3 separate regions of the Homo sapiens genome follow, and all the other regions are linked to region 2. Evidence: fine-mapped expression QTL. A gene starts in region 2. Each other region holds a variant in brackets. All regions are shown on one strand. Distances are from middle to middle.

Evidence for each region.
Region 1: its variant is fine-mapped to the expression of MSH6 in neutrophils (CEDAR, PIP 0.95).
Region 3: its variant is fine-mapped to the expression of MSH6 in neutrophils (Naranbhai 2015, PIP 0.95).

The regions. Positions count from the first base shown.
Region 1 is chr2:47,874,989-47,877,751 of GRCh38, reverse strand. The region is part of intron 1 of FBXO11 (F-box protein 11); the gene reads left to right. Among named protein-coding and RNA genes, the nearest start is that of FBXO11, 30 kb to the left of the region's middle. The variant T/G (reference allele first, on the strand shown) is at 1,386.
Region 2 is chr2:47,781,866-47,784,585 of GRCh38, reverse strand. It overlaps MSH6 (mutS homolog 6), which reads right to left and starts at 1,441. Exons shown (of 10, transcript NM_000179.3): 1 at 1,093-1,441. The coding sequence starts at 1,352. RefSeq lists silencers at 659-748, 949-1,108, 1,389-1,868 and an enhancer at 1,999-2,068.
Region 3 is chr2:47,896,161-47,898,923 of GRCh38, reverse strand. The region is part of intron 1 of FBXO11 (F-box protein 11); the gene reads left to right. Among named protein-coding and RNA genes, the nearest start is that of FBXO11, 9.0 kb to the left of the region's middle. The variant G/TG (reference allele first, on the strand shown) is at 1,223.

The DNA.
Region 1 (2,763 bases), 93 kb before region 2:
GATCGCACCACTGCATTCCAGCCTGGGCGACAAAGCGAGACTCCATCTCAAAAACAAAACAAAACGAAACGAAAAACCTTATTCTGGGGTGGGAGGTTTGAGTGAGAGATGGAGAAAATGAAAAATCGTTAGGGTAAGGTAAGCACACAAAGATACACACACACCATGCAACTTAGAGTTACAATGAACCTGCCAAACAAAAATTCGAAAATACAGAAGAAAAACTAAACCTAAAATAACCAAGTCAACACCTTCATCAGAGGGAAAAGAGAATGTTTTCTGTGTACTGATACAGAAATATCTCCTAAGTTTTGTTGCTTAGTGGGAAAAAATGGGAATCATGAAACAGTATTTATAGTATGTTTTCTTTTTTGCAGGAGTGGGAATAATTGATATTCAAGTGAATCCTTAGTCTATAGGTGTAAATAATAGAACAATTTTAAAGTGTATGTTTAAGATCCTCAGGGAGGTAAAGGAAGGAATAATTGCCATAAAAGAACCAAAATTACCAGTGTGGGCAACATAGCAAAACCTCATCTCTACAAAAAATAGAAAAATTAGCTGGGTGTGGTGCTGCACACCTGTGGTCCCATGCTACTGAGGAGGCTGAGGTGGGAGGATCGCTTAAGCCCAGGAGGTTGAGGCTGCAGTGAGCCATGATTGCACTACAGCCAGGGCAACAGAGCAAGACCCTCTCAAAAAAAAAAAACCCTGTATTAAGTAAGATGTCATTAGATGTGTACTAGACTGAACATGGTCAATGAAACAGTGATTTGGAAAATAGTATTAAGGAATTCACCCAGAATGTAGTAAGAGAGAAGTGGAAAAAAAAAAATGAATATAGATCGAGAGATTCAAACCTAAGTTCAATATTCAAAAGAAATTTTAGGAGAGATTAGACATAGTAGTAGAGAAACAGTATTCAGTGAGATAATGATTAAAAGGTTTCCAGAATTTAAGGTTTCATATTGAACTGAGTTTTCATATTGAAATAGCGCACTGCTGAACAGTTGCTTACCAGGATAAATTTTTTAAATCTTCTAGATGCTCAAAAGTGAAATTGCAGATCATAAAACATAAAAGCTTTTCAAAATGAAAAATGCCACAGTCCCTACACTAAAATATTAGTTAAATTAACAACGTATTTACCAGAACAGTGTCTTCCAGAAGATAAAAGGATCTTCTTTCCTCCGAATGTATAAGGAATATAACTGTTGACCTTGATTCTATACTCATTTAAACTATTATCTGTCAGCAAGAATGAGGCCCAAAGTGAGGAAATACACAAAATAGAGAGCTCCTCACTTACAGAAGCTTGATGGGAGAACCAAAGATTGTACTTCAGCAAGAATAGTAAACCAGGGAGAAGGAGGAATTGCAAAAAA[T/G]AATACAGTGGCAAACAAAGAATTGGCAAAATATTTGATAAATCAAGTTGAGTTGATTGCAAATACATAATTTTTAAAGTAGAATCAAAACTCTAGACAATAACAAGAAAGTTGGAAAATAGAGTTGAGTCAGGAATGCTACTATTCTTGCTTTGTTCCCAAAAAGTAGCACAAAAAGAGACACTGACCAACTTCAGGGTATTTTACCAAAACTAAATAGCTATTTTGTGGCTCTGCAGCCAGACTACCTGAATGAAAGACTAGCTTATTTCTTACTAACTGTGTGACATTAAGGAGTTATTTTACCTTCTTACGCGTAAATTTCCTTATGTATAATTGGGGATGACAATAATACCTTCTCATAGTTGTTGTGGGGAGGATTAAGTGAAATACATATAAAGCCACTGATTAGTACTACTCTATACATGTTTGCTGCTGCTGCTGCTTTTCTTTTTTAACCTGAGTAACCACAAAAGGAATAGAAATAAAATAGATGTCTTCCAGACCAGCAGAACTAAAGGAATGAAAATAAGAGAATGAAGAAGGCTAAACCCTTGGTATACCATCAGGGTCAGTTGGAATAATTTTCATTTTTGATTTTCATTTTAGAGCAGTGCCAACTATTTAGAAGGGTAGATATTATGACTTGTATTCTTAGAGATCTACCAAAGAACAAAGAGAAAATTTATTTTAAAAAATTATTCTATCTTACAGTTACCATATGAGTCCATTAGACCCTTTTTTATAAACCTAACATCCATTATGAGATCTTAATAATCTTGGCTTTTCCTATATATTGAAATATTTTACTACTCTAGGAATTTTATCATTACTTATCAATTATTTATACTGTGCTAAAAAAAAAAAAGACAAAAAAAGAATGACAGAATCTCCTAGAAGGAAGATGGAAGATGTAATAAATAGTCATTTTTCAGTTTTCTCACTGCATTGCTCAAATACTACATCCTACTTCAAAAACGTATAAAAAAATTTAGGAGACATACGAATTAGAAGATAAACGCGAAGATAAATAGCACTCTAGACCTAAGTTGTCCAATATGGTAGCCACTTGCCACATGTGACTATGTATATTTAAAATAATTAAAATTAATAAAATTTAAAATTCCATTCCTCATCACACTTTTAAGGGGTTATGTAGGAGAAGAATACAACTTACAATTACTCTTACTTCACGGTGGCTGGCTGCCATGTTGGACTGCACAGATACGGAACATTGTCATCGTTGTGGAAAGTTATATTAGATATTGCTGTTCCATACGCCAATAATGATAGTGAAATTGAGCATATAAATGAAGTCAGACTTTGATTCTTGAGATGATCATATCCTGTATGAATTTTCTCAGACTTAAGAATTGAA
Region 2 (2,720 bases):
GAGGCTGAAGCTGGGGAATCGCTTGAAGCCGGGACGCGGAGATTGCGGTGAGCTGAGATCGCGCCATTGCACTCCAGCCTGGACTTGAGCGAAACTCTCTCTCAAAAAGGAAAAAAAAAAAAAAGCACTTAACTGCCCATAAAGTGAGGACAACTCCCGACAGGCTTCCCCGGAGTCACTCACGTCCACACATCTTTGTCCAGCGCCCGATTAAGGCCTCTAAAAGCCCAGTGGTGCCCCATAAAAATTACACTATTTCATAAAATAAAATATTTTCCACTCGACACGAATTTCCACATACGTCAAAATATTCTATCTTCGTCTCGGTGCACGTGCAGCCTACCTACCGAAGGACCCAGCCGGATCCCAGCACTTCGGCTCCCCACGGCCCCGCCCCGCCCAATTAGGCCCCGCGGTCCCCATGGTGACACACCCCCCCGCGCTCGCAGCTCGTGGCCCACCCCCTCGGCGGCCCCTCACCTAGGCCGAAGGCCCACCGTCCCCAAGGCGTCTCGGCGACCGCGGCTCTTAACTACCTCTAAGTGTCTACCTCGATCGACTACTGGAGCCCCAACTCACTATCTCCGCGCCGGCCGAGGAACCTCCTTTCGCACCCCACACCACCGGACTCTCCCCGTTCGGCCTCCCGCAGGCATTCCTCCTTCCCGCCACCCCGCCCCCCGCCCCGCCCACCAAGTGGGCCGGGCGCCTTCCCCTTCTCGCCCCACCCCCAGTGCTCCCACCTCCCAGGCCCCCTCCCCACCCGGAGCTGCGCGCGTCGCCCCTTCCTTAGCCCAGCACCCCCACCTGGCGGGACGCGTCTCCTCCCTCCAAAAGGCCCGAACTCTCCGCGTCTCCCCTGCAGCCCTCTTCCTGCACAGCCTCTCTCCTCCGACCCTGTTTACAAGCTACACCCCCAAATGCTCCAGACTCGACCCCTGCACTCATTCAAGCCAACTCTGCGGCCCCGCCTCCTCCGAGCCCAGGGCCAGGCCGTGCACCCCCCCAACCCCCTGTGCGAGCCTCCCCTCGCCGGGTTCCAAGCGCCCCGCCGCTATGCCCCCGCCTTCGACCCCACCCCCACCCCGCTACCTGGTGGGGGCAGCAGGCGCTACCGATCTCCGCAGCCCTCCGTTGAGGTTCTTCGCCTTGGGCGGTGACGCGGAGCGCGCCAAGGGCCTGGGCCCAGGCCCAGCCTCGCTCCAGGCCGCATCCCCGCCTGGGGAAGGAGAGGCCCCGGGGGCAGCGGCGGCACGGCCGCCTTCGCGTGAGGCCCTGGCCGAGGCCTTGTTGGCATCACTCAGCGCCGGAGACTTGGGGAAGAAGCTGTACAGGGTGCTCTGTCGCGACATACCGACAGCCGGCAAGGCCCAACCGTTCTGTCGGACGGAGCTCCTAAAAGCACCGCATCTACCGCGCGGCTCCTGCTGGCGGGAAATCTGGGGGGAGGCGCGCTCCGCCGGAGGAACCCGGGCCCCAGTGGCCAATCAACAGGCGCCTCGCCGTGCGCGGGCGGTGCGCGCCAGGCCCCGCCCCCGGGCGCGCGGCGACGTGGGGAAGGGCGGGGCTGGCACACTGGTGGGTAGGGGCGGGGCTGGCACGCTGGCGGTGAGGGGCCCGCCCTGCCGCCGACGCCTGGGCCCCGCGCGGGGAACTGCTGAGCTCCCCTTCCCTCACGCCGCGGGGCTGGCCGGGCCGGAACACTCCGACCCGGGGTTAGTTGCGGCCGCGGGGCTAGCAGGCTCGGAAAGCCCTGCCTCTCTGGAGCGGAAGCGGGAACAGCGGGGGCGCGCACCGCCCGGGCGGGGATAACCGGGGGGACCCGAAAGGCCTCGGAAAGGGGCTCGCGGGGAGAAACGCGTCCAGCGCTCGCGTGACCTCCTGCCGTTAGAGCATTTTCGCAAGGAGACGGAGCGAAAGGGACCAAACTTTAGTCAGCAGTTCACCTTCACGTTGTATTCTCAAGATTTGTATAGAGTAGGCACTTGGTAAACGCTAAATGAATATTGTAATAGCATTCGTTAGCGATGCTGTTGTGTATGGTGAAAGCCTGCAGCTGTACAAAGTTTTCCTTTGCCAGGCACTGATCCCAGCATTTTACATCTGGTAACTAAATCGATCCTCTCAATAACCTGTGACGTAAGTACTTAAGGGCCACAGTCCGTTATCTGAGCCCTTTGACCCAGGTGTGTCTTTACAGGATTTTTCAAATTTTAGAAAGCTAAGAGACTATGAGAGGCCGGGCGCAGTGGCTCACGCCTGTAATCCCAGCACTTTGGGATGCCGAGGCGGGCGGATCACCTGAGGTCAGGCGTTGAAGACCAGCCTAGTCAACATGGTGAAACCCCCGTCTCTACTAAAAATCCAAAAATTAGCCGGGCGTGGTGGCATGCGCCTGTAATCCCAGCTACTTGGGAGGCTGAGGCAGGAGAATAACTTGAACCTGGGAGGCAGCGTTTGCAGTGAGCCAAGGTCGCGCCACTGCACTCCAGCCTGGGCGACAAGAGCGAAACTCCGTCTCAAAAAAAAAAGAAAGAAAGCTAAGAGGCTATGAGAATAAAAAGGTTCTATTCAAATTCAAGAAAGATAGTGGAAGACAGACAATTGTTTGTCCCCTTATCCAGATTGTGAAATCCAGATTGCCGGAAACCAGTCACAATCAACAGCTGTACATTGGTAAAAACCTATGTAAAATTAGTTGTTTGCCTTGTTCTTGGAGA
Region 3 (2,763 bases), 110 kb before region 2:
CTATACAACAATGAAGATGCATAGTAAGTAGCAAAAAAATTTCAAAATTGATTTATATCACCTAATCTTTCTATAAACAAGGAAAGATACCAAAATACATTTGGCAGAATGTTTGTATAACTTTCAGGGGATGCAATAACCTGCCCCTTGAAGCAGATCTGTCCCCTGTTCTATACCATCTGTCCTATTGGAGATGGCTGCACTAGTCTGATGCTATTGATTGTTGACTTATCTGGTTTCACATTTTTCAAGTAATCTTCTGATTATAATTTTACCTCTCATGTAGATTTGTCTCAAGATGAGACTCTACTGATTGACCAGCATGTTTTTCCAGTGTGTTGATGAGATCATTAAGCACTCATTATACAAAGAAGGGTAGATTTCCCCTGAATTACTCATAAGTTATGAATAAAGGGTATTAACTGATTTTAGCTCATGGTTGTAGGCTGGACTATTTCAGAAGGAGAAAAATGTGCGTTAAATTAGTTTTAGATTTCAGTGGTAATTTTGACTGGTTTGTGGACTAAATATTCTTTTCTCACCATGGTTTGGTGTGTTTCTTATATGTGTAGCTTGGAGTTTTTATATATGTTTGGTTAGCATAAAAAATGTGCTTAAACTTAATCCTTAGAAAATAGAGAAATGAAACCAACTAACTTCCTTTACATGATTTATTTCAGTTGAAGGCAAATATCAAAAATGTTTATTTTCCTTTGAAAATGAATGCATTAATTGCATTTAAAACGTTTTTTAAACACCCCGAATAAGATAGCATGTTAAAGCAAGTGTGAGTTCAGTATGTTAATTGCTTGCTCTCCCAGTTTCTAAAAACCCCGTTGTTAAATGTTTTGTTCTTTTTAACAAATGAAGATCATGGGGCTATGTTCAAAAAGGGGAGAAAATTGTTTTCTTCCATGTGGTGACTAAACCTTAAAAAACATTAAGGAATATTTTCACATCTCATGAGAGAAGAGGTGTCATTCATCCTTTTTTTTGTGTGAAGAGAGCTTTTGTATTTTCTCATACTTAGAGATTATTTGAAGGCTAGAAATGGAGTAAGAATATGTACTTTTAGTTATTTTTCTGATAATAGTGATAATCTCATTTTTACTCTTTTTTCCTAGTGAACAACACTCCTTTTCCAGATGGTTGAGTTGAATTGTGGCAAAATCTTTGTTGGAAATTTTTCTTTTTTCTTTTCCTTTTTTTTTTTTTTTTTTTT[G/TG]GTTTAAGACACAGTCTCACTCTGTCACCCAGGCTGGAGTGCAATGGTGTGATCTTGGCTCACTGCAACCTCTGCCTCCTGAGTTCAAGTGATTCTCCTGCCTCAGCCTCCTGAGTAGCTGGGATTATAGGTGCACACCACCATGCCTGGCTGATTTTTGTATTTTCAGTAGAGACGGGGTTTCCCCACGTTGGCCAAGCTGATCTCAAACTCATGATGTAAAGTGATCTGCCCGCCTAAGCCTCCCAAAATGCTGGGATTACAGGCGTGAGCCACCTCACCCGACCAGAAGTTTTTCTTTAGTGTGAAATTAACTGGCCACTGTGTGGGTTTAACCTTTGATATTGGTGTCTGTGTTACTGTAGTGTAACCAACTGACTTGAATCAGTTTAGCCTTTGCTGATTTGCCAACTCTACTTGGGTTTAGATACAATAATTCTTTTTTATATCCAAGCATTGATTTTTCTATCTTCCATTCATAGTATATTAACATACTGTATATAAGAACATGTGGCTTTATGAGATTCTAACACTTAGTAGGAAAGGGGATGGGGAAGAGGAAGAGCATGTAACTATTTTTTATTCCCTTGTTATATATTGAGATGGACAACTTTGGTATGTATGTTACTAGTTATTGTTTCTTCCCACATAATTGGTCATAACTTTTTGAAAAAAGAAAAAAACAAGCTTTAAAGGGAATTAGAAGTGAATAAAATTTAACAAATGAAAAGTAGGAGTCTTTCCAGACTTCTATCATAGTAAAGAAGAAATATCAAAGAAGATTTGTTGAGAGAAATAGAAGTTGGAGTAAGGCACTATATTTTGAAAGCTAGTATTTTTAGCAAAGTGTTCTTATGGTAAAGGAAATTATAGACTCACTCACTTTATTTCATATAAGGTCAGCAATACATAAAAGTAGCCACTATACTACTTCACACTTACATATGAATGACTGATGTCTTCATTAATTCTCTGAAAGACATTTGCATTTTTAAGAGACTGATTATGATAACTTGTCAAATTTTGGTATTTTAGGCCAAGTAAAAGAGGGAAGCGAAATTAAACAATTGGGCGGGGCATAGTGGCTCATGCCTGTAATCCTAGCACTTTTTGGGAGGCTGGGTGGGGTGGATCGCTTGAGCCCAGGAGTTTGAGACCTGCCTGGGCAACATGGCGAAACCCCGTCTCTACAGAAAATACAAAGTTAGCTGTGGGGTGGTGGCCCATGCCTGTAGTCCCAGCTACTCAGGAGGTTGAGGTGAGAGGATCATCTGAGCCAGGGAGGTCAAGGCTAGAGTGAACTGTGATTGAGCCACTGCACTCCAGCCTGGGTGACAGAGTTTTAAGACCTTGTCTCAAAAAAAAAAAAAAGAAAAGAAACAATTTGGAGAAAGATCTTTCGGGTAGGAGTGATTCTTCAGAGGCAAATAAAGTATTGGGGGAGGGGGAGAGTAAAGGATTCCTGCAAGAATCACTTAACATTACGTGTTTATTTCTTTTCCTGATCTTTTTCTGACTTTTAAATTTTTCTCTTAAAGTTT